Regions from separate parts of the Homo sapiens genome. Here all the other regions are reported to be linked to region 1. Evidence: microRNA targets listed by miRTarBase, many of them from high-throughput screens and not tested one by one. Region 1 holds a microRNA gene; each other region holds the end of a gene's coding sequence.

The links. Region 1 holds the annotated microRNA hsa-miR-644a (AGUGUGGCUUUCUUAGAGC, at 4,284-4,302, opposite strand). A microRNA usually pairs through its seed, bases 2 to 8, with sites in the 3' UTR of a target mRNA and lowers its output. Matches are read on the target gene's strand: a 7mer-m8 pairs with bases 2 to 8, a 7mer-A1 pairs with bases 2 to 7 and ends in A, and an 8mer does both.
Region 2: the mRNA of PPIP5K2 is a reported target of hsa-miR-644a. Seed matches in the 3' UTR shown: 7mer-m8 at 4,917-4,923.
Region 3: the mRNA of MAP2 is a reported target of hsa-miR-644a. Seed matches in the 3' UTR shown: 7mer-A1 at 2,952-2,958.
Region 4: miRTarBase lists LAD1 as a target of hsa-miR-644a. The part of its 3' UTR that is shown has no 7-base or 8-base seed match.

Annotation. Positions count from the first base shown.
Region 1 is chr20:34,463,564-34,470,686 of GRCh38, reverse strand. MIR644A (microRNA 644a) reads right to left here and starts at 4,362; the gene lies at 4,269-4,362. It overlaps ITCH (itchy E3 ubiquitin protein ligase), which reads right to left. Exons shown (of 25, transcript NM_031483.7): 15 at 567-639.
Region 2 is chr5:103,200,498-103,207,620 of GRCh38, forward strand. It overlaps PPIP5K2 (diphosphoinositol pentakisphosphate kinase 2), which reads left to right. Exons shown (of 31, transcript NM_001276277.3): 31 at 1,025-7,123. The coding sequence ends at 1,137. Among named protein-coding and RNA genes, the nearest start is that of MACIR, 55 kb to the right of the region's middle.
Region 3 is chr2:209,729,295-209,736,417 of GRCh38, reverse strand. It overlaps MAP2 (microtubule associated protein 2), which reads right to left. Exons shown (of 16, transcript NM_001375505.1): 15 at 6,456-6,568; 16 at 2,306-6,236. The coding sequence ends at 6,021. Among named protein-coding and RNA genes, the nearest start is that of UNC80, 39 kb to the left of the region's middle.
Region 4 is chr1:201,376,171-201,383,293 of GRCh38, forward strand. It overlaps LAD1 (ladinin 1), which reads right to left. Exons shown (of 10, transcript NM_005558.4): 7 at 6,904-7,041; 8 at 6,483-6,569; 9 at 6,082-6,156; 10 at 4,663-5,723. The coding sequence ends at 5,718. TNNT2 (troponin T2, cardiac type) reads right to left here and starts at 1,510. Exons shown (of 17, transcript NM_001276345.2): 1 at 1,453-1,510. RefSeq lists enhancers at 40-536, 941-1,478, 1,479-2,016, 3,353-4,116.

The sequences.
Region 1 (7,123 bases):
CAGGAGGTCAAGGCTGCAGTAAGCCATGATGGCACCACTGCACTCCAGCCTGGGTGACAGAGTGAGATCCTGTCTCAGAAAAAATAACACATAAAAATAAAGTAGCTGGTTAAAATTATATCAGAAAATGCTTTTACTTACATTTGAAGATTCCTGCAATCTGAAAGTAATGGCTACTGAGGAAAAAGTGACAATGTTTGCTTATTCAGATGGTTTCAAGTTTAATTTTCTTCTTTAAAAAAAAGAAATATATATATATATATATTTACAGAGGTAAGGCCTCAATATGTTGCCCAGACTGGTCCTGAACTCCTGAGCTCAAGTGATCTGCCCACCTCGGCCTCCCCAAGTGCTGGGATTACATGAGGTTTAATTTTCTGAATAACCAAAGTCACAAATGATCTAATTGATAAATCTATTTATTTGCTCTAAAAATAGATGAAAGAGATTCTAATGCTTCCCATTTTACCTGTTTTTCTGTGAGTTAAGTATTTTCACAATCACTGTGTAATATAAAGCAACACAACAAAGTTAAGGCAGTACAGAGATACAGTTCCAATACTAACCTGACACCAGAACCGGAAATACTGAACCTTTGCTTTGAAGTCCCGAACATAGGCTATCTGAGGTCCATTGTCTCTGAGGAAGAACAAGGGTTAACAGGACATATATAGCTGCTTGTAAAAGATAATGCTGAAGGAAAGCAAAATATCCCACCCTCTCTCAGCACTTACTAACCAAATTCAAAAATATAGCATATTCCTAACAAAACCATTCTTTGCTTTTTGAGAGATATTTCCCCAAGAATACTTTTAAGTAACAGAAAAAACAAACAAAAAACTTTGATTTTGTTGAAACTACTGTTGTGGGATTTTCTTTTCTATGCTGCCAAATCTAAGAGGGCTAAGTAAAGGGGTTTCTATCTGAGAATGCTGTCTATCCCAACATCAATTCCCTCCTTTATCTTTAAGTAAAACCCTTGCTATTTAACTAAGTAGAATGCTACATATAATAAAGACTACATTTCTCTATATGGCCATGTGACTTAAGTCTCTAAGTGAAAGTGGCATATGAAACGTTCAAGAAGGATCTTTTTGGCCAGGTGCAGTGGTTCACACCTATAAATCCCAGCACTTTGGGAGGCTGAGGCGGGTGGATCATCTGAGGTCAGGAGTTTGAGACCAGCCTGACCAACATGTTGAAACTCTGTCTCTACTAAAAATTATAAAAATTAGCCGGGTGTGGTGGCAGGTGCCTCTAATCCCATCTACTTGGGAGGCTGAGGCAGGAGAATCACTTGAACCTCAGAGGTCAAGGCTGCAGTGAGCTGAGATTGCACCACTGCACTCCAGCAAGGGTGACAAAGCTAGACTCCGTCTAAAAAAAAAAAGGAAGGATTTTCTAAAAGACAGCTAAAATAGCTAAAAAGTGTGTGAGTGTGTGTGTGTGTGTGTGTGTGTGTGTTTATAATTTGCCCTTCCTCCAAATTCCAGCCTGGAGTGTGACCCTGATAGCTTAAGTTTCAGCAGCTGTCACAGACCATGAGGTCACTTTGAAGAATGAGACCATACTCTAGGATGGTAGAAAAGACAGAAGAATTTTAGATCACTATGACACCATGGGGTTTCTCAGCTAGCCTTGGACTTAATACCACTGCATTATCTCCCTCTTAAAAATTCAATGTATATCAGTGTAGAAATACAACTGATTTTGTACATTGACTTTATATTCTGTTACGCTGTTAAATTCACTTACTAGTTCTAGTAATTTTTTCTAGATTCTTCATGATTTTCTGTATACAAACGTTATTTGTGTGAGGGGAAAAGAGACAGTTTTACTTCTTCCTTTCCAATTTATACATCTTATATTTCTTTTCTTTTCTTTCTTTTTTTTTTTGAGATGGAGTCTTGCTCTGTCTCCCAGGCTGGAGTGCAGTGGCGCAATCTCTGCTCACTGTAACCTCTGACCCAGAGGTTCAAGCGATTCTCCTGCCTCCGCCTCCTGAGTAGCTGGGATTACAGGTGCCCACCACCATGACTGACTAATTTTTGTATTTTTAGTAGAGACGGGGTTTAGCCATGTTGGCCAGGCTGGTCTCAAACTCCTGGCCTCAAGTGATCTGCCTGCCTGGGCCTCCCAAAGTGCTGGGATTACAGGCGTGAGCCACCATGCCCGGCCTGTATTTCTTTTTCTCATCTCACTGCACTGGGTAGGAATACTGACACAATGTTGAATGAAGTAATGACAGTAGATATCCTTGTCTTACTCTTGATGTTCTACGGTATTTCATCATTAATTGTGATGTTGGCTGTAAGCTTTTGTTACATTTTTTTTTTCCAATAAAAATGTTTCCGGCAGGGCGCAGCAGCTCACGCCTGTAATCCCAGCACTTTGGGAGGCCAAGGCAGGTGGATCATGAGGTCAGGAGATTGAGAACATCCTGGCTAACACAGTGAAACCCCGTCTCTACTAAAAATACAAAAAATTAGCCAGGTGTGGTGGCGGGCGTCTGTAGTCCCAGCTACTCAGGAGGCTAAGGCAAGAGAATGGCGTGAACCCGGGAGGCAGAGCTTGCAGTGAGCTGAGATTGTGCCACTGCACTCCAGCCTGGGCGACAAAGTGAGACTCCGTCTCAAAAAAAAAAAAAAAAAAGTTTCCAAGGTAGCTGAGAGTTTCTCATAAATTTGCATTGTATTATGTCACAAGCTTTTCCTGAAATTATCGTATGATTTTTCTCCTTTAACCAATTTTGTTTGTTTTGACATGGAATGTCACTCTGTCACCCAGGGTGGAATGCAGTGGCCTGAAACCTCATCTCTACTAAAAATACAAAATTAGCCAGGCATGGTGGCGCATGCCTATAATCCCAGCTAATCAGGAGGCTGAGGCAGGAGAATTGCTTGAACCAGGGAGGCCGAGGTTGCGGTGAGCCGAGATTGGGCTATTGCACTCCAGCCTGGGCAACAAGAGTGAAACTCCGTCTCAAAAAAAAAAAAAAAAAAAAAAAATGAAAAAGAAAACATTTCCATCACTTGTATTTTATGAATGAATTTGAATAGGACTGATTAATTTATAACTTATAAGTTTGATGAACCTTACCAGTGACACCATCTAGGCCAGAATTTTCTTCATGAGAAATCTTTTTTTTCTTTTTTTTTTTTTTTGAGACAGGGTCACACTCTGCCACCCAGGCTCAAGTACAGTGGCGCGATCTCGGTTCACCACAGCTTCCTGGGCTCAAGCAATCTTCCCATCTCACCCTCCTAAGTAACTGGGACTACAGGCATGCACCACCACACCCAGCTAATATTTTGTATTTTTTGTAGACATGGGTTTCACCATGTTGCCTAGGCTGGTCTTGAACTCTTGAGCTCAAGTGATCTGCCCACCTTGGCCTCCCAAAGTGCTGAGATTACTGGCATGAGCCACTGGGCCTGCCCTTAAAAATTATTTAATTATGCATTTGATTTATCAGCTATAGGGATATTTAGACTTACTATCTGTTCTTGTGTCCATTTTGGTGACATATCTTTCAAAGAATTTGTCCATTTGATCTAAAATGTTAAAGTTATTGGCATAAATATACCCTTTATTATCCTTTTAATGTCTATAAAATATACAGTGATGTCCCTCTTTTTTTCTCTATAGGTTTAATTACTAAGGGTTGTTAATATTATTAATGTTTACCAAAAATTTATCTTCTAGCTTTGGGCGCTCCATTGTTTCTTTTCCACTTCACTGAGTTCTGCTTTTATTTATTTCCTTTCTTGTACTTACTTTAGGTTTAATAACTTGCCTTTTTCTAGCATCTGAATGTAAAAGCAGAGATCACTGATTTTATCTTTCCTATATTCTCATCTACTTCTTTAAAACAAAAGTTTCCCGCTGAAGACTACTTTAGTTAAATCCCACAAATTGTGATATGTGGTGTTTTAATTATTATTCAAAATAAAATATTTCCTGATTTTTCTTGTAACTTCTTTTTTGAGCAATGGTAATGATGTGGTGTAAGTCCTGCTGGACTATTTTTAAATAATGGGGACAAATACACTTCTATCTTACATAAACCACTATTATTTTAGTGTTTTCTATTATATGCACCCAAACTTATTGTAACTAAAATGAATGATAGAATAATATTATCGGTAATTTATTCCCATATCTAAATTACCTCTGTAATTTCATTAATACCAAATTGGCCTGATTTTCCAGTTTCTGCTTTAAATATAAAAGTTGTTAATGTGTAGAAGTATAAAATTAGAAAGTAATAGGGAACCATCTTTGCTCTAAGAAAGCCACACTATAAGAAAACTACAGAGCAACATTCCTTATGAACACTGATGGAAAAATACTAAAAAAAAATCAGCAAAAAAATCTCAGCAGCATATTAAAAGCACACTTTAATCCTTTTGACTAAGTAGGATTTATTCCTGGAATGCAAAAAAGGTTCAACCTATGAAAAATCAACATAATATACCACATTAACAGAATGAGGGGGGGAAAAAATCACATGATCATCTCAATTGATACCAAAAAAGGATTTTACAAAATTTAATACACTTTCATGATAAAACACTCCACAACAGGGATAGGAAACACTAGGAATAGAGGGAAACTACCTCAATATAATAAAAGGCACATATAAAAATCTAACAGCAAACATCACATTCAATGGTTAGAAGTTTTTTCTTTAAGATGAGGAACAATATAAGAATGCCTATTTTCACCACTTGTAGTCAACATAGTATCCAGAAGCTCTAGCCAGAGGAATTAAGCAAGAAAAATAAATAAATAAATAAAAGATACCCAAATTGGGAAGAAGAAAACTTATCTGTTTTCAGAAGCTAAGATCTTTTACGAAGAAAACACTAAATATTCCACAACGAAAAACCCTGCCAGAGTAAGTGAATTCAGGAAAGTAGCAGCATACAAAGTCAACACAAAATAGTTCCATTTCTATATACTAAGAATAAACAATATAAAAAGAAAATTAAGATAACAATTCCATTTACAATAGCATCACAAAGAATAAAAAATACTTAGGAATTAATCAAGAAGGCAAAAGACTCGTACACTGAAAACCACAAAACACTGCTGAAAGAAATCAAAGAAAACACAAAGATATCCACATTCATGGATTGGAAGACTTAATATTGTTAAGATGACCACACTACCCCAGATTGATACAGATATTGAATCTGTATTGATCAATATGGATTTTATTGATTCTGTACATTCAATAAAATCCCCTATCAAAATCCAAATGACTTCTTTTTTTCAGAAATAAAAAAATCCATCCTAAAATTCATATGGAATCTCAAAGGACCCTGAATAGTCAAAAGCAGCTTGAAAAAAAGAACAAAGTTGGAGGACACATACCTTCCTGATTTGAAAACTTGCTACAAAGCTATAGCGTGGTATTGGCAAATCAGACATACAGACCAACAGAATAAACAGCCCAGAAATAATCCCTTGCATATATGGTAAAATGCTATTGACAATGGTGCCACAGTCATGCAATGGGGAAAGGACAGTCTTTTCAACAAATGGTGCTTGGGAAAATTGGACATTCACATTCAAAAAGATGAAGTTGGACCCTTACCCAACACCATATACAAAATTTAACTTAAAATGGATAAAAGATCTAAATGTAAGAGCTAAAATTAAAGAACTCTCAGGCCAGGCGCGGTGGCTCATGCCTGTAATCCCTACTCTTTGGGAGGCTGAGGGGGTGTGGATCACGAGGTCAGGAGTTTGAGACCAGCCTGACCAACATGGTGAAACCCCGTCTCTACTAAAAATACGAAAATTAGCCAGGCGTGTTGGTGCGTAGCTAAAACCCCAGCTACTCAGGAGGCTGAGGCAAAAGAATCGCTTCAACCCAGGCGGTAGAGGTTGCAGTGAGCTGAGATCTTGCCACTGCACTCCAGCCTGGGCGACAGAGTGAGACTCTATCTACAAAAAAAAAAAGAACTTAGGGCAAAGCTTTATGACACTGGATTTGGAAATGATTTCTTGGATATGACACCAAAGGTACAGGTGACAAAGAAAAAACTGACAGGCTGGGCGCGGAGCTTCACATCTGTAATCCCAACACTTCAGGAGGCTGAGGCGGGCGGATCACCTGAGGTCGGGAGTTCGAGATCAGCCTGACCAACAAGGAGAAACCCTGTCTTCTACTAAAAATACAAAATTAGCTCAGCGTGGTGGTGCATGCCTATAATCCCAGCGACTCGGGAGGCTGAAGCAGGAGAATAGCTTGAACCCAGGAGGCAGAAGTTGTGGTGAGCCGAGATCGCACCATTGCACTCCTGGGCAAAAAGAGTGGGCAAAAAGAGTGAAGCTCCGTCTCAAAAAAAAAAAAGAAAGAAAGAAAGAAAAAAAAAAAAAGAAAAAACAGGCCGGGCACGGTGGCTCACGCCTGTAATCCCAGCACTTTGGGAGACTGAGGTGGGTGGATCACGAGGTCAGGAGATCAAGACCATCCTGGCTAATGTGGTGAAACCCCGTCTCTATTAAACAAAATACAAAAAAAAAAAAAAAAATTAGCTGGGCATGGTGGCGGGCGCCTGTAGGCCCAGCTACTTCGGAGGCTGAGGCAGGAGAATGGCGTGAACCCGGGAGGCATAGCTTGCAGTGAGCCGAGATTGTGCCACTGCACTCCAGCCTGGGTGACAGAGAGAGAGACTGTCTCAAAAAAGAAAAGAAAAGAAAAAATTGACAAATCAGACATCAAAATCTAAAATGTTTTATACATCAAAGGGCACTATCTACAGTAAAAAGGAAACCACAGAATGGGAGAAAATAATTGCAAATCATGTATTTGATAAGGGATTAACACCCAGAATATATAGAGAACACCTAAAACTCAATCGCAAAAGAAAAAAAAAACAACAACAAATGGGCAAAGGACTTGAAGAGACATTTTTCCAAAGAAGATACACAAATAGCCAAGAAGCATATGAAAAGATACTCAACATCACAAACCATTAGAAAAATACAAAGAAAAACCACAATGAAATACGACATTAAGGATGACTATTTAAAAAAAAATATGATGATGATGAAGAAAAAAAAAACAGAAGAGTTGATGAGAACGTACAGAAATTGGAATTCTTCTGCA
Region 2 (7,123 bases), not on the chromosome of region 1:
GTACAGAGTGTATATTTGTTATCTGTGGGAAGATTGGTCTGATAGAAGCTTACCCATACATCTATTCATCCATAGTAGAAATGTAATAATGTAATGCCACCTAGAATGGTTTTTTATTTTATTTATTTATTTATTTATTTATTTATTTATTCTTTTGAGACAATGTCTTGTTCTGTTACCCAAGCTGGACTGCAGTGGTGCAATCATGGCTCACTGCAGCCTCAACCTATCAGGCTCAAGCAATCTTCCTACGTTGGCCTCCTGAGTAGCTGAGACTATAAGTGTGTGCCACCACACCCAGCTAATTTTTAAAGTTTTTTGTAGAGAAGGGGGTCTCACTATGTTGCCAGGGCTCGTCTTGAACTTCTGGGCTCAAGCGATCCTCCCACGTTGGCCCTCCAAAGTGTTGGGATTACAGGCATGAATCACCCTGCCTGGCCTAGAATAGTTTTTTGATAATTCATGAAGACTTCATGTTGGTTTAGACACAGAAGGATGATTCCTAAGTCAAGCGTGCTTCTAGTTTTCTTACCTTCTAGCTTTTTAGAGAGGGATAAGATAGAAGATACAAGAGGAAATAGATGCTTGTAGAGAAAATGATGAGTTCAGTTTATGCATATTAAGTTTGTCTTTCTCGTCAGATATCTTTAAAGAAAGTTTCAATTGGCAGTTGTATATACATATCTTGAGCTAAAGGAAAAGGCCCAGGCCAGAAGTATAAATTTAAAAATCATTAGCACAATGGATGGTAGTTAAAAATTATGAAAATATATTCATTTCCTAGGAAGCATGTAGAGTAAAATGAGAAATTAATTTTGTGAACACAGCCCATTGTCATTACCTTTCTATATTTGTGTTGAATTCTGAAAAGTAAAAGGTTAAAAATGCTATATTAAATTTTTACATTTCATTTACATCACAATTATAACAAGAATTGTTTTGTCAATCAGCAGTATTATTTGAACTTGGATTGTTTGTGTAAATTTAAGCAATAGTTTTTTTTTTTTGTTTTTGTTTTATGTAGCTACAAGTGGACCTTCTAGTGCAGTTGTTCCTAATACCTCATCTCGGAAAAAGAATATAACTAGCAAAACAGAAACGCATGAACACAAAAAAAACACTGGGAAAAAGAAATGAAATCTTAGCAGAAGCTGGAACTTTTTATACTTATAAAAATAGTATGTTCTTATGTTTCTCCTTATGCATTTATGTGTTCACTTAAAAATGTTTTTAAATCTAAGGTTTTCTTTGTTTATGTTCAGGTAAGGAACTGTTGTCATGATCTGGAAATGTTTAAAACAATGTTTGTTAGCATTCTGTGAGCAGCAAAACTTATAGTGATAAAAATCGATTGTTGTTAATATGATGTTTACCATGTGCACATAGTAATGAAAAGGAACATAAAAGCCCAGCAGGCTCGTACCAAAGTCACAGCAGTAATGCTATGTACTGCAGAGTCTGATGAGCTGGCCTTTGTGCACACTTTTATTTTCATGGGATTGCATCTTAGCTGTTAAAACTTCTAGATTGAAATTTGACAGCCAGGGTTACATATTGGGGACTTTTAAAGTGTCTTTCCAAAGAGATTTCATTAACCGTTTAGATTAGAATATCTTTCCCAATTGTTACAGTGACATATATGCTGCAATATTTAACAACTGGAGTATTAGCCACATGGGTTATTTTTTCAATCTGTGTTTTGAATTTTTTTATTGTGTGTTATTTAAAATATTACATATGCAGCTGGGAGAACTACACCTTTGTGCACATAGATTTATATATTAATTTGTAGAAAATATTTTCTTTATATATTTCCTTACCATACAAGGTGCCTTGTTCATCAGGAAAACTTTTGTTTTGTATTTTGACAAGAAAGGCACCTTCAGAGTTTCTTTTTAAGTATAGTTGACAAGTGTATAAATGTTACACTTACTTTCAGAGTTCTTTTTAGATCTAAAGAAGTCAGTTCAAAAATGGAAATCAACAATGTTAGGAGAAATCTGAATTCTGTTAAGTTAGTAAGTATTATGTATAGCATCTGTTTTTAACCATTTCCATTCTTATCCCTAGTGTATCAGTTGATCACACTAAGAAAGCTTAAAGATTGAGCATTTGAAATAAATGCTCTTTATAAATGATTAGATTTTTGAAGGGATATTGAAATCATTGCGCTGTGATTTCATCTGTGATGTGAAAAATCAATTTATTATCCTTGGTGCTTTCCCCCCCACCAATGCACAAATAATTGTGAACAGCTTGAAATGACTTAAACTGTAATCCAAATGGGACAATCTGATAAGAATTTCATGCATTGGTAGTTAAATAACTTAAATTGCTAAAGCTTTAGCTTGAAATTTATGTTTAGAAAAACTATTGATTTCCCATGGTATGAATATAACTATTGTAATTCTTCAAATGAGACTCTTCTCACCTTAAATAGTCATATATTAATTAACTTATAGGAAATAAGCATACTATATGTTAGCTGTTTTAAAAGGTACCAGATGTAAGAGTCATAAATATATGCAATTAAAGAAGTTCATAGATTTCACATGAATGTAAATGTGTTATATGGAGACATGTCTTGTAAACAGTTGAATGTATGTAAGTTTTCTGTTTGTGAAAATGTAGTTAATGTACTCACTGTGGAGGTCATAAGGAAGCTACTTTTTTTTTAAAGTGGAACCTAATTAAAATATTTCCAGAATCAAAGAGACTTAAATGGTAAATTTTTAAAATTTTCTTATCTCTTACTTTTTAGTTTTCAAAGTAGAAAAAATCAGGAATTTTTTTATTAACTAGTACTTACATATTAAATAAAATTTATTATTGGCTATATACATAGCAATATATTACTTTCCAAACTAGAAAGTACAGTACAACTAACTTTTTCCATTGTTATGCAAGAACTATTACTTTCCTGTAGTCACCAAACTCAGTAGTATTGCTCTGTAGACTAGACACTCTATTTGTAAAAATCTTAGAATCACTTTCCAAAACAAATAAAAAGTCTACTGTATCAGAGCAAAATGTTATAGTTATCACTGTTTAGTGGCAGTTTGACTGAAGCATCTGTTTCTCACTTGATTCTGTCCTGAGAAGATGTGGGATTTTTTGGTTTTAAATACTAGAAGATATTTCTTCTTAGAGCCCAGTCCTCCATCCCAAAGAGGTGAACTAGCCCAGCATGAAGAATTGTCTAGTCACCCTGAGATATTAATCTTCATAATGTATTATTCAGTTCCTTCACCCTTAAAAGCCATATAATAGGCTCAGACCTAACTTAGCCCTTGAAGTCTAGTGCTGGCAGATTCTGCTGCCCTGGTTTAAATGAGTTACGTAGTCCATTCTCAAATACTAGCAAATTTGGGGGGCGTGGTACAGCAATTTTGGGTGAAGAAAAGTGTGCTGAACACCTTATGTCAGTGATAGACAAGATATAGAGGCTGAAGGGAATACAGTAAAGTAACAAAAACATGTGGCAGTGTGCTTAGCATAAACATAGAGCACAAAGGCAATAGATGGAAATTATGAGAGAAAAGTTAAAGTTCTTCAAGAAATATCCAATTAAAACTCACTAGCCAAGGAAAAAGTTTCTGTTTTCACCCGGATTTCTTTTTGGGTTGACTCTGTCTGACCTAAATGTCCACTGTTAACTAGTGCCATGCCAGTTTGAACCAAGATTTCACATTTTTGTTTTGTATTCATACTTTGGTAGAAATTTCTCAGTCTTTGTGTATTTATAAGAATTTGCTTTACACATAGTGTACAGTGTTTATTAACTTTACATCATTTTATCCTTGCCTTACTATCTGGACAGTGTAGACTGCCTATATTCTTAGTTGGGGTTGGGATCTCTTCTCTTAGAGTGGCCCAGCAGTTTTAGCCCCTCTCTAATTCTCTTTTCCTGTGTTGGGAGATATCAAAACAACAGAATTCTTGCCAGTGGGAACATTTTTCTTTTTTAGACAAGGTCTCATTCTGTCACCCCAGCTGGAGTGCAGTGGCACAGTCTTAATTCACTACAGCCTTGAACTCCTGGGCTCAAGAAATCTTTCTGCTTCAGCCTCCTAAATAGCTGGTACTATAGGTGCGTGCCACCACACCCAGCTCATGGGAATAATTTTTACACTCCTTCAGAAGGAGTCATTTGTGATTGGAGTCCACATAGAAACAGGTTTCCCTCTGTACATAATCGTAGGTACCAAAATATTACTGTGTAAAGTGTTGTTTATATAGGTCAATTTTTGTGGAAGATCTAATTTCTATTTTCAGAGAACAGAGCACATTAAAAAATCTATTTAGTATTGTGTACTATATAATCTATGTGAATTATAGCTCCTTAACTAAATATATTACTGAGTTTTTTTTTTAATACTGTAAGTTCTAGGGTACATGTGCACAATGTGCAGGTTTGTTACATAGGTATACATGTGCCATGTTGGTTTGCTGCACCCATGAACTCATCATTTACATTAGGTATTTCTCCTAATGCTATCCCTCCCCCAGCCCCCCACCCACTGACAGGCCCAGTGTGTGATGTTCCCCGCCCTGTGTCCAAGTACTGTTCTCATTGTTCAGTTCCCTCTTATGAGTGAGAACATGCGGTGTTTGGTTTTCTGTCCTTGTGATAGTTTGCTGAGAATGATGGTTTCCAGCTTCATCCATGTCCTTGTCATCCTTTTTTTTGGCTGCATAGTATTCCATGGTGTATATGTGCCACATTTTCTTAATCCAGTCTATCATTGATGGACATCTGGGTTGGTCCCAAGTCTTTGCTATTGTGAATAGTGCCACAATAAACATACGTGTGCATGTGTCTTTATAGTGGCATGATTTATAATCCTTTGGGTATATACCCAGTAATGGGATGGCTGGGTCAAATGGTATTTCTAGTTCTAGATCCTTGAGGAATCGCCACACTGTCTTCCACAATGGTTGAACTAATTTACACTCCCACCAAGTGTTCCTATTTCTCCACATCCTCTCCAGCATCTGTTGTTTCCTGACTTTTCAATGATCGCCATTCTAACTGGCGTGAGATGGTATCTCATTTGTAAGATGATATCTCATTGAGATTTTTATAAACTGCTTTTCTTTTGGTTCATGTGCTTTGTCATGGATTGTGAGAAAAACATCTTTTCGCTTAGGGATCACTGTCAATTTCTCCTTTTATTATCAATGGTTTTTACTTTACTTTTTATATAGTATGTGGGTATGTTTTCTGGTGCATATAAATTCATGAATGCTAGATTTTCATTATAGGTTTTACCTTATCATTATTAAAATGTCCTTTTTGTCCATTGGATACTTTTTGTTCTATAAATTGTCAGATATTAAGATTATGACCTATGCTTTATTTTGGCTTGCATTTGCCTGATATTCATCTTTTTACTTTTTGGTATTTGTGTCACTTTGTTTTAGGTTATTTAATATAGTATATATTGGGTTTTGCTTTGTGATTCAATTTTAAGATCCCTTTTACTTAATAGATTAGTGTAGTCTGTTTTATGTAATGTATCTTTGCTTTTAGATTGTGCTTGCTTTTTTTATTGCTTTAAAATTCTTTTGTCTTTCTGTAACAATACTTTCCACTGCAAGTAGGAAAATTCCAATTGAAACTGGTTTAAATCATCAGAAAATGTATTATTACACATTTCTGAAGGTCCAAAGGTGGGGTTGGCTTCAGCCACAGTTGCATTAGCCATATTGTCATCAAAAGCCCAAGTGACCTCCCTTGTCACCTCTGGCATAGTATAAACTTTATCCCAAAGTTGTTTTCTCTCGTGTTAACAATAATTGCTGTCGGTTTCAGTGAGGACTACATATTTTTTTTGTTCATGTCCAACACAATAAAAATTGAGGGAAGTTCTGTCCCAATCCTGGAATATTAATATTAAGCCATCTACTTCAGTGTGATTGAGCCAACTTCTTTGATCATCTACTCACCCCTAGATAAATAGAATACTCCAGGAGATTCCCATGACCTTACTGACCCTAGAGCAGATGATGGAGTCAGTTTTTCCGAAAAGCCTCAGCACTGTTGACATTTTGGACCATAAAATTCTACATCATAGGAAGCTGTTCCATGCATAGCAGCATGTCTAGTAGGATCTCTGTACCTAGCTGTGAAGTGTTGAGAGTCAGTTAAGGTAAGTAGCTGAAATGAAAATAACAATCACATCTTTATTCACTTACTATGATAAAATTATAAGCAAGAGACCAAAAAGGAAAGTAGGGCCAGCTCCTTGTTGTTCCATTTTTCCCCTACCATGGACTAGCACTGGACATGCGTCAATCAGACGACATGCAGTCCAGGCAGAGGAAATTGTTTCACTGCTAAGGAGCAATGAACAAAAGGTTCCTGCCATCTTATGGACCTCAAGGACTGCGGACAGGGAGCAGGGAAGGGTTAGAAGTAGAAAACAACTGAGTCAGAGTGGAGATGAGTGTCTCAGTCAAGGCCCACCAATAGCGAGGTCTCTGTGGAGGCACCTGAAAAGTGTCTCAACCAAGGCCCCCTGATAAGGAAGACTCAGCATGGAGGTACCTGGTCTAGGAATGCAGCTAGGTTTATAGACATGGCCAGCCCAGGGGGTCCTGAGCACCAGATACAACTCCCTCCAGAGACTGGCTGTGTTTAAATCTCATGTGGGAAGGGCACCTTTCCCCTACAAAGCCTGTCAGGCAAAGCCTTTGTAATTGCTTATGGTCAGGCCTGAAAGATCACACATCAGACTTTGGCCTGGAACATATCTCCTCACCCTAAATGCCAGCAGCATCGCCTCCAAACTGTGGCAGTCAAAAATGTCTCCAGACATTAGTAAATGTCTTTTGTGAGGGAAGAATTGACCCTAGTTAAGAACCACTGCCCTAAAGCACATGATTCTGTGGAAAAGAAGGATATATGACCAAAATCATCATTTTGGATAGTGAGGGCATGGATAATGGATACATAATCAGCAATGTATGCTGTATACTACACTTGCATTATGTTATTCACATTTGCTATAGTTCACTTGTTGTGCTAATGGTTTTTTCCTTCACTATGATTTTGAATTATATTTAATTTTAAAGTCTATATATATATATATATAGATCCTATCTGTTGACTCCTTGCTGT
Region 3 (7,123 bases), not on the chromosome of region 1:
CAATAAGTATAAGGGGTGTGCAGAAACTTAAATATGTTTATCATGGACATTAACAGTTGCTGCTATGAAATAAATGTGCTTCTTAAAGGTCTTTTTCCCCCTGCTTTTTTTTTTTTTTGAGACAGGACAAAAGCTATAAATATTGGTGTTCCCAGTTCTCTGTCACCCTGAGGATTCTAATCTAACCTCCCTAACTCCCTGGCTCTAGGATTAGGGGCTCTAGGATTTTGGACTTTTGTTTTATAGGATGAGGAAAATATTGGCGAGAAAGACAAGTGTGCCTAGGTCAAGGGTTACAAACTCTAAATCTGTAGTTTAATGCTTATCGTAATGAGTGAAAGCAGAGGGGTGGGAGAAAATAATAAGCCTAGCTGGGCATGGTGGCCAAGTCAAGGGAATAAACCCCATCTCAGAGGTACCCATGGACAGCTCTGGTCAATGGTCACCAAGAGCGAAGATCCAAATCTGGGATGTGTGTGTGTGCATGTGAAGTTTCTGAAATTTGAAAACAGTTTGCAGGCCAAATAAAGCCTATCTGGAGGCCACAGGTTTATTACCTCAACTGAGGCCTGGGACAGAGATTGTCTTGGAATTTAAGGGAGTAGAAGTGGAAACAGCTGAGGCATATTTGTGAGGGAAAGGCATGAGAGGTGGAAAAAGGGCTTTAAAGAGTGTGTCCATGATGCTGCTTTATCATGCTCAAGAAAGTCGAGTGAAGGGCTTAATATTTTGAAACAATTTTAGGTTGCTAGACTGTATACTTTTGACAATTTTCTAGCCCTAAATTCTTGAAGTCTCAGGTCTACAAGGAAGTGCCACATCATAAACAAGAAGAGGAACATTTATCTTTCTGTAAGTTACACTGAATGTTATCCTGTCATCCTCCATTATTTACGGTTGTCTCTTGTCAAGGCAAATAAACCTTTCCTTGCCTTGTTAACAAATAAAAAAGAAAATCAACAATTTTATGGTGATTCATGCTACTGGACAAATTTAATCCTCATGGTTTGAAGACTCTGAAGGACAACATGTGTGCTGATTTTAAGGAATTATTAGAGATACACTAATAATTCTTGCTAGGTTCTACAAAATCTGCATTATTAGCAAAAGGAGACTGAATGAGAAGTGATGCCATTAATAAGAGAAGTAGGTTTTAGCCAAGTTAAAATAGTCTGAGGGCTGGAAAACCTCTAATACACACATAAGTATTTCTTTTACCAGTCACAGCTTTCTATGCCTTGGTTCCTAGTTTGACATCAGAGGTAGGGATGCTGTCTCAAATAGTCTTTGGGATAACTTTTATCCATTAGAGACCTGCAACGGAGCTCTTTCTCCTTAAACACATTAGCAGGGACTGAATGAGCTTAGTGTTTCTCAAATTTTTGAGTGCAGATGAATCACCTGGAGGAATGTTAGTTAGTTAGTCTGGGGTGGAGTCCAGAAATTTGTATTTCTATCAAGCTCCCTGGTGAAGCCTGAGCATAATCTGAGCTGTAAGGAGCTAAAAGATGAACAGGGGTGCAGCTATACCACGTATTTGTTTTTGTGGCCTGTACAGTATCAATTCCTCTCTTCTGGCAGGAGTAGCCTGAATTAACTTTGGGGGAAACGTTTCCTCTCCACGATTAGCTCAGGTAGTATGGAGGAGAATAAAGCCACTTCTCCCCTTATTCTCCTTCTACTCCAACCACCTGTGACAGAGTTGGGTACGTGAGCCAATCCTGGTCAATTAGCATAAGTAGGCAGGAGATCCAAGTATTAATCGTTCAGTGATTTTCAGACCCTGGATTTGAGCTACTGTAAAGGGGCTTTCTTTGATAGGTTGTGAAATCTGGAGCTTCTGGTGCCCATCACGGAAGGGGTGCCTGCCTGAGAAGGAAGCCAACACAGAGGATGCAAAACTAAAAGTTGGAAAAGGGAAGATTCCTGATGACGTCGTTTGAGGGCCTGGACCCAGCCATGCCTGAGGCAGATACACCTGAGTAGTCAGTTACTTGAGCCTACAAATTCACCTTTACGTTTAAGCCCGTTTAATTAGAATTTTTGTCACTTGCAAAAGATAGCATCCTGCTAATACAGTAGTGATAAAAATAAATTTCCTTATTAATTGAGCTAATATAAAATCATTTAGTATAGAGCCTGACACATAATAGAAACTCAGCCATAATAATAGCCTTGTTTTCACAATTTTTCTTTGGTTGTATTACACACATGCACACACACACGCACTATATCACTATATATATATATAAAATTTTTTTTCCAGAGGAGAAGCAATTAAACAGTCTGAAACCAAAACTAGCAGTTAGGTGACAAGCAATTTTATTTTGCAAAACAATCACTATACAGCAACAAATACATTTGCAAATTTGATTGAAAAACATGAACTAACTACAACCAGCCATTGAAGAAATGCCTTTCTATGGTAACAGGCTCTAGAATTATCAGAAGAAAGAAACCCCCCACAGATTTGTAACAGTGTGTTGGAACCTCGGAATCCCAGCATACAGAGTATACTTTTTGTTGATTTTTTTTTCTTTTTGCTAAAGTTGAAGTAGATTTTTATGATTGACATTTTATTTTCTGAGTTTGAAAATAAGCTTTTTCCTGCAGAGAGTCTTGGCCTTCACCTACACACCCAAGCTAAAAATCCTAGGTGTAAAAAAACTCAAAACATCAATGCTTATTTTAGCACGTCAATCTTTGAAGGAATGCTTAAAATTTCCTTACCAAGCCATGAATCTACTTTATCTCTAGTATTTAGACCATGAGTAGTTTATTTTCCTTATTGTGGCTTGAAAAATAGAAGAAAACTGTAATTGCAGCTATGTCAAAATCAACCACATTCAGGTTATTTCCTTAATAAAATACTGATGGAATGTTATATATTGGCTGATTATTCCACGCTTGCTGTATTACTGTAGGTGTGTGTGTGTGTGTGTGTGTGTGTGTGTGTGGAGAAGGTCACTACAATCAGTACATTCTTCCATTTAATGGCATTCTCTCTTCAGCCTTCTCCAGCCGTACCTAGCTGGTGTTACACAGGTGTCATACTTGTAGGTGGGATGTCAGCCCATCACGCTGCTGGAACTCAGCAGGTAAATCCAGAGAGAGTTGGTTCCTAAATGAACGTGGCCTTTGAAACTCATCATGAACTCGGGTCTTTCCTGCATCATTATGAGGTATCCAATTTCTGGTTGCAAGTGACCCAGAGGTTGAGTTCACTGGAGAAGTTGGCCTTTAAACTCTTCACAGCTCTGGATTACTTACGTATTCTTATACAGGTTCTCAAAGGCTAAAGCCAGAGAGAAACTGGCATAGTAGATCTAGAATTGAGACCACGAAGATTTCATTCCTAGATCAGCGTATGTGTGTCCCCACAAGAGTGGTGCTCAAAAAGCTTAATTTGAGTCGTTATCTTGAGAGTGAAGGCAAGATAGGTTCTACCCCTTAACCCCACAAGAAGATATTTAACCTGTGTGTTTCTCTCTTTTACTGGTACAAACGATCAGTTCCTTTCTGTTAACTTTAATAAAGAATTGTATTTCCATACAAAGCAAGAACATTTATTCATTATAATTTTGTTGTGATTAGAAATAAACATTTGTTTTAATGCCAAATCTAGTAGTTTGGTGCCTTGTATAATCTTTATTTTTGACATGTATTTGTAATAAACTGACTTCTAGTATGCAGAATGTTTACCTAGTGTTAACTTATATAAAAACTTTAAAGAATGTTGAGAAAAATACTTATTTCACAGGTTAAAACTTTTCTAATGAGCTGTTAACTTCTTTCTAGAGAAATTTAATCACTATTTAAGACTATGAAAACATGTAATAAAATACCCTAAGTCTCCACACACCTTTCTTCTATTTTCTGGTGCACTTCAAGGGAAGCTGATGAATAAATTGCCCAGATTGGTCAAATCAAACCTCACAGCAATTAATAGGCAGAAAATAGATATAATGATCCTAAGGTTTCTAAGGTTTTGACTGTCATATAAAATAACTGATTTATAGATGGTTTAAGACACGTTTGCCTGTGTAAAATCTCTTAGCTGAGAATGAGTGGTGTGGGTTTGCTCCTAGGGTTTCTTGTATGGCAGTTACACTGGTTGCCATATCCACTGGGTCACCAAAAAGCACCTGTGTCTCTGCCTTTGCATCCCTTGGCTTTTGTCTTGGATGTTTCTATACTTCCCCGTTGCCTCAGTACATCCTCATCATTTCCTCCTTTATATTCAGGAACTGATTTGGCTCAAAGAGATCATACGCCTAGTGGACCATTTGATTTTAATGGTTCAGATCCAACCTACCAGCCCTGAGCAAGAAAAAGAACAGATAAAATTTTTAAAAAGTGTCCATCTAGCCTGGTAGCTCTTTGCCTTAATCAGGCCATTGACTATTTCATTCCTTATTTGTAAGTCTAAGATGAATGATTTGTGAGAGGAACTAATTGATTTGTGAGTTCTAGACTGTATATACAGTCAGAACAGTATTATCTACTGATAAATAATACTAGATCACAGTGTGTTACTTTACAGAGTGCAATGTTGGAGTCTTGGAAAAAAACTGATTTAGATATCTGTGTCTCAAGTGTTTTATAGCTATAGCTTCCCAAAGTATTGTATTTTTTCTTTCTGATCAGGGGATCTTTACTTTGGGTAAGAAAGACAAACATCTTCTATTAGAGAATTTAATAAACAGATACTATTTGGAAAAATGAGAAAACATGTTTCAAACTATTATAGTTAGTTTCAACTTTCAACTTTAGCAAATGGAAAAAAAAAGAAAAATAAAGAAAAAATCTTAAGTCGGTTTCATGAATAATAATAGGAATAAACCCCAAACTATCCTGTGATTAAAAATGAGATAAATCCATAATCTTAAACCAACAATCTGTAAACCCTTTCATGTATAACTGGACCCACCCCCACAAACTCCATGTTGGTGAAAGCAAAGAAAAATAATTTTTTGTCTAGCATCACGGGAGAGACTTGTATCTGGCACTAAAACAGGGTTACGGCTTTGAGTTGTTACAGAAAGCAACTTCATGCTAAAATTTTTTGTCTTTTTTAATGTATTTTTTTTAAATAGGGAGAGAACCCTGCTAACATCTACTTTCACATATCTAAAATTGCAACACCAAAGGGTGCAGGAGACACAGATACTGTGAATAAAGAAGTATAATATTCAAGTATATGAGGAAGTATCACAAATGGCCACAGAGAAATATATATATATTTATATCTATAATACTGTATCAAACAGATGGAAAGGGGGTGTGAAACTGGTAGTGTGGACACAAATCTAGCTGATCAACTGACATTCTAATCAGACACGAGTCCATCCTAATGAAAGTGCATCATTCCTAATGGATGCACTTTTACACCACTTCCTCAACCACAGCTCAAATGCTTTGCAACTATTTTTTAATTAGTTAAATAATTTATTGGACTGACATACTCTGATATAATTATCCAGGTCCCAAATGTTAATAACTTAATTGAATCTTTCTTCCCATTTATACAAAATAACACTTTAAAAAAACTTATTTCTTACATGCTCTTCCCTTCCTGCAATCAGACTCCTTGGTTTAATTTAACCTGAAATAAGTTACAATGGGCAGTTTTTATCTTCTCACTCAGAAACAGAATAGTGAAATGAGCAGCTTGGATTTTAACAAGGCCTTCAGAATGTAGTGGATAGCCTTCAGGCACATGAAAGGTAAAAATGCAATTTTTAAAATAATAATACTCCATGCAAAACAGAGCAGAGCAAAAATAATTGTCCAATTGAACCCATGTAAAGCCAGTGTCTTCCTGTTGCAAATGGAAATCAGGTCAATTTCTGCATGTACTATTCATTTTTTAAATAGAAAATTGTAACAATTACTACAGTTTGGGGATGAGATTATTTATTTTATGGTTTATAAAGAATGAATATAACAACTGCTCAGAGCCCACTCCTGCCAAGAGCTCATGCCTAAATATTATTATTTCAATGCTAAATGAGAAATATTCACAAGCCCTGCTTAGCGAGTGCAGCAGTGACATCCTCAGCCAAAGTGGCAAGCTGAGGAGATTCGAGCAGGTTGATGCTTCCAGACGAGGAGACATTGCTGAGTCGTCGGGGTGATGCCACGCTGGATCTGCCTGGGGACTGTGTAATGATCTCAGCCCCATGGTCCACACGGGCTTTAGCATGCTCTCTGAAGTTCAACTTTTGGCTGTCAATCTGTTTAAGACAAGCATCAGTCCTCGTTAACTCATGCATCTTAACTGGCCCCTACCTCTTTCTCCATCTCCCAGGGCTGACATTAATGACTTCTATTCACCTCTGTTATCCCCACTTCTTATTTGTCCAGGTCTACAATCTGGGACCTATTTTGATGAAGAGTATTTCAGAAGAATTTTTTTTAAAAAGACAAGATTGGCTCATAACCTTGTTTCTTACCTTGACATTACCACCTCCAGGTACATGATGAGCATTATCAAGAGAACCAACTTTAGCTTGGGCCTTTTCTTTGAAATCTAGTTTTACACTCTCAATTTTCACACGTCCGCCACCTATGAGGGAAGAAATACCTTGATTTAACTATATCTTGCATTCGTGGTAACTATTTCCCAAAAATGACTGCAGTAGATAGACTACGGCAAACCACAAATTTATTAACTTTACCATCCCTCCAACCATATATGTAAAAAGAGTCTTTTAGAATTTCTAGCCCATATCATTTCCTCATATGATGCAAGACCATAACACCCTTCTTATACTATTATATGGATTGCTTCACGTATTAATACCTTTCTCCTTTACCCATGTCTAACCTAAGAAATCAGAGGGGCTTTTCTTTTTGGTATAACAAGAACTCTAAAAATTAGCAAAATGAAAATATCTTATTTGAATCCTTTCTAAAAGTTGGAACATTTAGTCTCTTATTTCTAAGGGACCAAATTAAATTTAAATGAAACTCTTCTTTATATTCATGGTAACAGGTTACTTATCCAAAGAAGATTTAGGCTGGAAGTGGTGCACATGTGGGCAATATATTCATTTATGAATGTTCAACATTGAAAGCTTCACTGATGAAATGAGTCGGGAGGTAAGTTGTTTATGACTAG
Region 4 (7,123 bases), not on the chromosome of region 1:
CAACACGTGTTGGAAGCCTAACACGTTCACAGGGTCACCTTTCTTGGGGAGTAAAGCAAAGACAATAGAAGGCATAAGGCATACTGACCTTGGGGTCAAAAAATCTGGGCTTAAAACCCAGATTTTGCTGTGTGGCCTTATTTAAGTCACCTAGCCTCTCTGACTTCAGTTAACCAACTACAAAGCAGGAGAGCCTTGAGTTCTGTCCCTGTAGAAACAGTCTCCGAGTTTCTGAGAAACACAGGCCCCACCCCTCAGTCCTTGTCCCCAGCACTCGAATGGGATTTTCCTAAGCCAACAGCTGTTAGCCCACCAGGAGAGCGGGGGTAAGGGGATGGGGAGAGGGCAGGAAGAGTGGAAGTGGGGGTCAGAAATAGGAGGCAGCCAGCAACCTGATCCTCTCAGATTCCACTTTTGCAGAGAGAAGGAAGATTCGCCCTCTAAGACATGGGTCAGAAAAGGAATTTGGGAGGGCAGGTAGCTTCCCGGCTACAGCAGGCCAGGAATGTGCTCTGAAATTCCTTACACACCAGGCAACCCCCTCCCTGAATAGTCCTCAGCCTGCCCAGGAGAAACTAGAAACCAAGGGAATCTTTCTCTACCACTCCTGGGCACAGAGCAAGGCTTGTCCCAAGATGGGGTGTTGGGGTGGGATGGGACAAGGGTTACACTTACGGGGGCCCAGGTTAAACCCTTTAATGCCAACCAGCTGGGCTCACACCCAAGGACAGGTTCTCCCAGTGGGGCCTTTCCCCATCTGCCCCCCAAGTGCAGCTCAGCTCAGGGTCTGGGAGCTCAGCTCAGCTCTGGGAGGGAATGGCACTGAGTCAGCGGCATCAAATGGAATTCCCGCGTTGGCCTGGAGAGGCGCTGCAGAGGACCCTGCACATCTGGTCGTTCTCAGTACTTCCAGGACAGTTTCTGAGTTCCTAGCCTTGAGAATATGACCAGGAGACTCACTTGACTGACAGGGCTGCAGTCTCGCTCTGCTCCCTGGGACTCAAGAAGGACCTGACTGGAAAGGTATAGGTGACCCTCGGCCTGGAACAAGCAATTTAGGGGAGTCTCTGTTGGTTAGAGCCTCATTGTATTTAGAGCAGGCAGAGGCCTAGCAAATATTTAGCCCACTCTACAGATGAGAAAACTGAGGCCTGGGGAGGGAAAGTGACTCATCCAAGAGTTTAAACTCTACATCTTTAGTGGCAGGTCCAGGACTCCAACCCTAGTCTCCAATGGCTACCATGGGATTCTCTCTTTCTCTCTGCTCTATTGTACCAATCTTGGAGCCCAGACCTGGCAACCTGTCCTCTGAAGTGTGGCCTCCACCAGGAGGGGCCATGGACTTCTGCGGACACAGGCAGACTCTGGGTAAATATGCCAGGGCCCAAGACCCTCACATCTCCCCGTCCATTCTCTGCTCTCCTCTTCCCCAGAGCCCTGCCCGAGCCTTACCTCAGAACAGCAGCTGCCGACAGATCCTGGAGGCGTCTGCTCAGTCTCAGCGGGGACTGGGTGAGGCAGAGGATGGAGAGGGCTTTAAGCAGGCATGTGGGCTGGGGCCTGGTGAGCCAGCCCTGCGGAGGGAGGAATGTGCGACAGGGGACGGGTGGGGCAGGGGGATGGCGGTGGGGGTGGGGGGTGTTGGCTGCTATTTTGGCAGGTGCCAGGGACAAGGCTACAGGAACATGTACCCCACGCCATATAAGCCCATGTGGTCCTCCAGCTGCTCAGATAAGCTATTTAAAACCAGAGCAGATATGCAGGGAACAGTCATGCAACATAAACCAGCTGTCCCTCTTGAGAATCCTGATAAAGCAGAGGCCAGCAACCCAGGCCTGGGAGGGCCAGCTGGGAGCAGGGTTGGGGGGCAGAAGGCAACCTCCAAGACACTCCATAAGTCTCAGCACCAGAATCTTGGAAGGCAGAGGGCAAGAGTTATGTGCTGCTCCACTTGAACTGATGCTGGGGGTAAAGACATCTTCCAGGCTACTGGCTCCTAATGGACTGAGCAGCCTTAGGCAGGTTGCCGGCTCTGCCAGCCCCAGTGAGGACATCTGCAAGGTGGGTCTTCTCCATGACCCCCAAAGCCATGTGGCACACCCTCCTCACAGGGAATGGACTGAAACTGCTACAGGAGGCCAGATACAAGGTAGAACTTCCAGTCAAGAACCTTGAACAGGCGCTCGTTGTGTGAGAGGGGTGATGCGGACTGTCAAAGGTCATCCCCTAACGGCTTTAAAATCAAGCAGTGCGGGGCTATGATCTGCTAAACCTACTAGATTGCAGATGCATAGGTCAGGCCTAGGGGTCTTGCTTGCTTGCCTGTGTCTGACCATGCACATGCACTTGTATGTTCAAGGCTGGCCCATTGCAGGGTTTGGTAGATTATGAAAATGAAAGAGACAGGAGGAAAGCAAGCCAGTAAGCAGCTGAGCTGACTCTCCCCTCCATCTCTTTCTCCGAATCTTCACAGCCTAGGTCCTGCTTGGCTCTGAAGCAGGAATGGTCCTCCTCTGGAGCAGGCCCTCCCCTCCTCCATGACCCCCCCTGGCACTTAAAGATCTTGCCCATTCATGATCCACACTCCTCTGTTTCTCCGTGGGCAAAGAAAGCAATCTCGCTATTCTCTGCCCCCTTCTCCCATCACCCAATCATGTGTCCCGCCTTCCCAGTCCTCAAACTCTTCTCTCAATCCCTCTGCCTTGGGAGCTACTATGCTGCCTCCACCACTAATGTCCTTGAAAGGGTCCTCTGCGCAGGGGACTGCCATTTGCTCCACACCCATGCTGCTGTCAGACTCTTGTCCCATCACTCAGCTGACTCCATCCCCTCCATAGTTCCCTGTGGCCTCTGAGTCCAGTGGCCTTGATTGCCCTGCCACGTGGGCCTCCACACTGCCAGCACATCTGTGGCAGGGCAAGCTGAAGCCAACCGCCCGCTGGCCAGCATTGTGGGACTGAGGACCACCACAGGGAAGCAGGGGCACTTTGTAGAGAGACAGGCAGATGGAGGGGACAGATTCCCGAGGGATAGTGAGGAAGGAGTCAGGCTGTCAAGAAAGTGGGGGGAGCCCCATCATCTCTCTCTCCCATTCTAGCCCACGAAGCAGGGCCCAGCCTTGCCTTGGGTCCTGGCCTGGAGTAACGTAGAATTCGGAATTACTTTTCCCAAACCCTTTTTTAACTTGAGGGTGGGTTACTGTTCCTTGTAAGCCCAATAACCTTTCAAACAGACCACGGTTTATTTGCATGGATGCCTAGAAGAGGGATCTGGGCACCTAGGTCACTACTGAGCCCCATGGGAAAAGCCCAGTAGATCCTTGGTGTCACAGGCCACACGTGTATGGCTTCGAATTGTTCTAAGGCAGGAGCTTCGTTCAGAGCGCTGTGAGACAGCCTCTCAGATAAGGAAATCCAGCCCCCATGCAGCAGCCACTCCTGGGCATAGTAGGGTTACTCTTAGCCCATTTTTTTTTTATATCCCTGTCCTTTCAAAGGGATGTAAAGAGAAAACAAAGCCAGAGTGGAATGGGAGGCTTATGCTGAAACAGTGCATGTAAATTTGAGGATCCACAATAGGACGGGCCACTTGTGGGGCACAGGGCCCCTGTGGCAAGACAGCAGGAGGGTGCAGCCCGGAGTGGTGTGTGGGAGCCCTGTTCTGTCTCCAGAAGGTGCCCAATGTCACCCATCCAGAGGCCTCCCCACCCGCCTGGACACCCAGTCGCTACCACTCATCTATCCCCAGCTGAGGTCATCTTGGGCACACCCTGGTCTCCTTGTTTACTGGCTGCGTCCCCAGTAGGAACGAGGGCAGGGCCCTCACGTGCTGGATTCACAGGGGAGGGGGCTGTGCTGTAGCACCCCGACATTTCCCCTAGCAGTCAGCCCTCACTGGGCACCCCAGGGGAGGGGGGTGCAGGCATGAAGGGCCCTGCTGAGGCTGCAGCTGCAGGAACAGGCCCCTCAGTGTCTTCCTAGGCTCTTACTCCACGGTCAGGCCCTGCCAGGTGAAGGCCTCCAGGAGCCTCTCCTCTGTGTGGGGACAGTTTTGTTTACTGGAAAAGTTCACCTATCATGGCATGAACATATGAAAGTTCTCTGAGGTCATCTGCTTGAAGTTCAGAGAAGGAAAATGGCTCAGGGTCACACCTGAGGTCTGGGCAGAGCCAGAGCTGTTTAGATGTCCCGAGGCTTAGGCAGGACTCAATCCGTTCCTCGGCCCTGCCCCAGCCTTGTCCTCCAACTCTCGGCTATGAAGTTGGAACACTCACAAAGCCCCAGCACTAGCAGTGGGTGGGAGGTGCTCGGGGCAGGGACCCCAGGTCCCGATATCCCTCACTCAGGCACAGGAGACTCACTGACCAGAGGTGGGTCAGCCTGGGGCACTGGGACCTGAGCACGGATGGCACTTTGAGGGCCTGTCCCCTGGGGCACAGATCTGAGGAGCCCTCACCCAGAGTCACAGAGTAGGGCTAGGGCTCATCCCCCACACACTTGGGGAACTGGACTGGTGATACCCCCTTAGGAGCCGTGTTAAGGGTCGTGTTCCAAAAAGACCTGGAGCTTCCCCAGGCATGCAAAGGGGGAATGGGCAGGGGGCTCTGCACCTGGCCACATCCCCAGCTGATTCTGGGTAAAACTAGGGCAGTCAATCAAGATGGAGAGTTCTAATGATTTAAATTTTTGAAAAGTTGTAAACCACAGCTTTAAGGGGTTAACAGGGCACCAGGCTGATGTTCCTAGCTTGGTTGGTTCTAGATTCTCTGATGGTTCACCATGCTCCAAGCTCATAGGAGCCATGAGGTCCAGAGCATGGGGGTGGGGGTTGGAGGGGGCTTGTGGGGAAGGAGGGTAGGCCTGGCCCTGTATGTGGCAGTTCCCAGTCACCAAGCTAGGACTGCTGAGTGGCAAGCCACCACCTTAATGTGAGAAGAGGGGGGATGAGGAAAATGATGATCCTCCTCACACACTTCAGGTGACCTCTGCTAGAAAGCAAGGCCTCCAGAGAGGAATTCGCTTCTAAGGTCTCATCAGTCTCTTACACCTGAGAGTAAATGAGTTTATCAGATCCTTCCTGAGAACAGGTTTTTCAGAGAAAGGGTAAGTGGTTGCACACAAAAAGGCACTTAGCTCCTGGCCATGGCAGCCGGCCAGGGAAGGGAGGGGAGAACCAAGCAGGGAGACGGGGCACAGGGAAGACGCACGGCAGCTCCTTCTCCCCTGGCCAGAGCGGGCCTCAGTGGCTGGGAGCAGGCCCCAGGGACAAAGATGGGTGGGTCCAGGCCTCAGAGAAGGGGGACATCATAGACAAAGAGGCACTTGCTGGGAGCCGATGAGACAGGTGACTCTGGAGTTCTTGAGGGGCGCCGTGCCCTGACTGTGGATGTGAGCAGGAAGGAGCAGAGGTCTCTGGGCAGGACATAGGCCCCATAGTGCTGATGTGCACTTGTGCTGTGACCTGGGCAGAGACTGGGTCCCAGCATCTGTTGTGCCTGCCGCAGGGTGAGAAAGTCCCAGCCCCAAGAGGCTGGGCTGGGAAGGAGCTGGCTGAGTCTTGCAAATATTCCTGACCCCAGGGACCCTGGCCAAACAGATCCACAGGCAAAAAGGGAACAGGGACAATGAGAGGAAAGGGTGCTGCTGTGAGAGGCAGGGGCCTGGCATGAGGGAGGTCCCTTGAGACGAAGACTTGCAGGTCTGTCTTGGCGGGGCTTGTCACACCTGTGGGGCAAAGAGCTGTTAGCACAAGTCAATGGGGTGTCAGGGATGGAAGGGGAAGGGGGCCACTGGATAGGAAGGCATCCCTTTGCCCAAGCCCCACACCCACAAGGAGTCAGAGCCCTGTAATCTGCCAGCTGAAGAGGGAGGGGCTCTGCAGAGCTGCAGGCAGCACAACCAGGTGAGGGCTCAACCTTGTTCTCACGGTTGGCTCAGACCAATCTGCATGAGCAGGGATGGGGGCGTTCTGGGTGGACTGCGCGATTGCAGGCCAATTAGTGTGTGCACACGGGGACGATGGGGTCTCCCACAGTACACCGTGGCCCTCCGCCGTAGGGCCAGGCTCCTCCCCACCATTCACCTCAGCGTCCAGCGAGGAGTCAGATTTCTGTCCCCACTGAGTCCTCTCGGTTGCAGATGATGCTTTCTGTGCCTCCTGATTGAGGGTATCAGGGTGGAGACCAGAGACTAAGACCAGGCTCCAAAGGGCTCGGGATACCCCAGGCCCAGCTCCCAGCCCAGGATGTCCTTTCTCTTCCCAAAAGAGAAAAGGAACCCAGACCCACCCCTCCTCTCTGCCAGAGTCTGACCCACACACCCATCTATTCCCGACTGCCTCCACTCCTGAAATGACTCCTCCTCTCCCGAAATGACTCCTCCTCTCCCGAAATGACTCCTCCTCTCCCGACTGTCCCTCCTCTGTCCCCAGTCATCCCACCACAAAGGCTCCACAGTAAGAGACATCAGGGAGGGTGAGGATACCTGGGGGTCCTGATCTCCAGATTCCTGGGTCCTGCTGATCCACAGGTTGAGCCTTGATGTCACAACCCCTGAGAGCCTCAAGTTCTCCTAAAAAGAGAACTTTCCATCTCAGGGTTTAGGGCCCTTGGCAGCAGCGAGGCATGTTCAGAGGCCCTGGAATGGGATAGGACTCTCCCTCACTCCCCTATGCATCCAGCACATGCCACATATACCTGGGACAGCCCCCTCCCCTTCCCCCAGGGAGCTGTGTGCCCAGCTAAGGAGATGGGCTCAGGAACGTGAATGGGAACTCAAATGGAGGTTCTGCCAACATTAATTGACACATGAAAACAGTTTTCTAGCATTGCCACAGCCAAGATTTGGGTTTTGGAGACGTCAGGGCTAATCACCCTAAGGACCCTGTGGGGCCTGAGCCCCTCACCTTCCGGCTGGAGGCTGGTTCTGCTCGGCTCTGGCCCGCCAGTTCCTTCTCAAAGAGGTGGCGCTTGCTGGCTACACCCACAGGAGCCACGAATAACTCAGTGCAAGGCAGACCCCGAGACTTGACAGATTCTGATCTCTGGGAACCAAGAACACCAACAGCTGACCCATGCTGGGGAGGGGAAAGGGCCATGCCCACTACTCATCCTGCACCCTCCGCC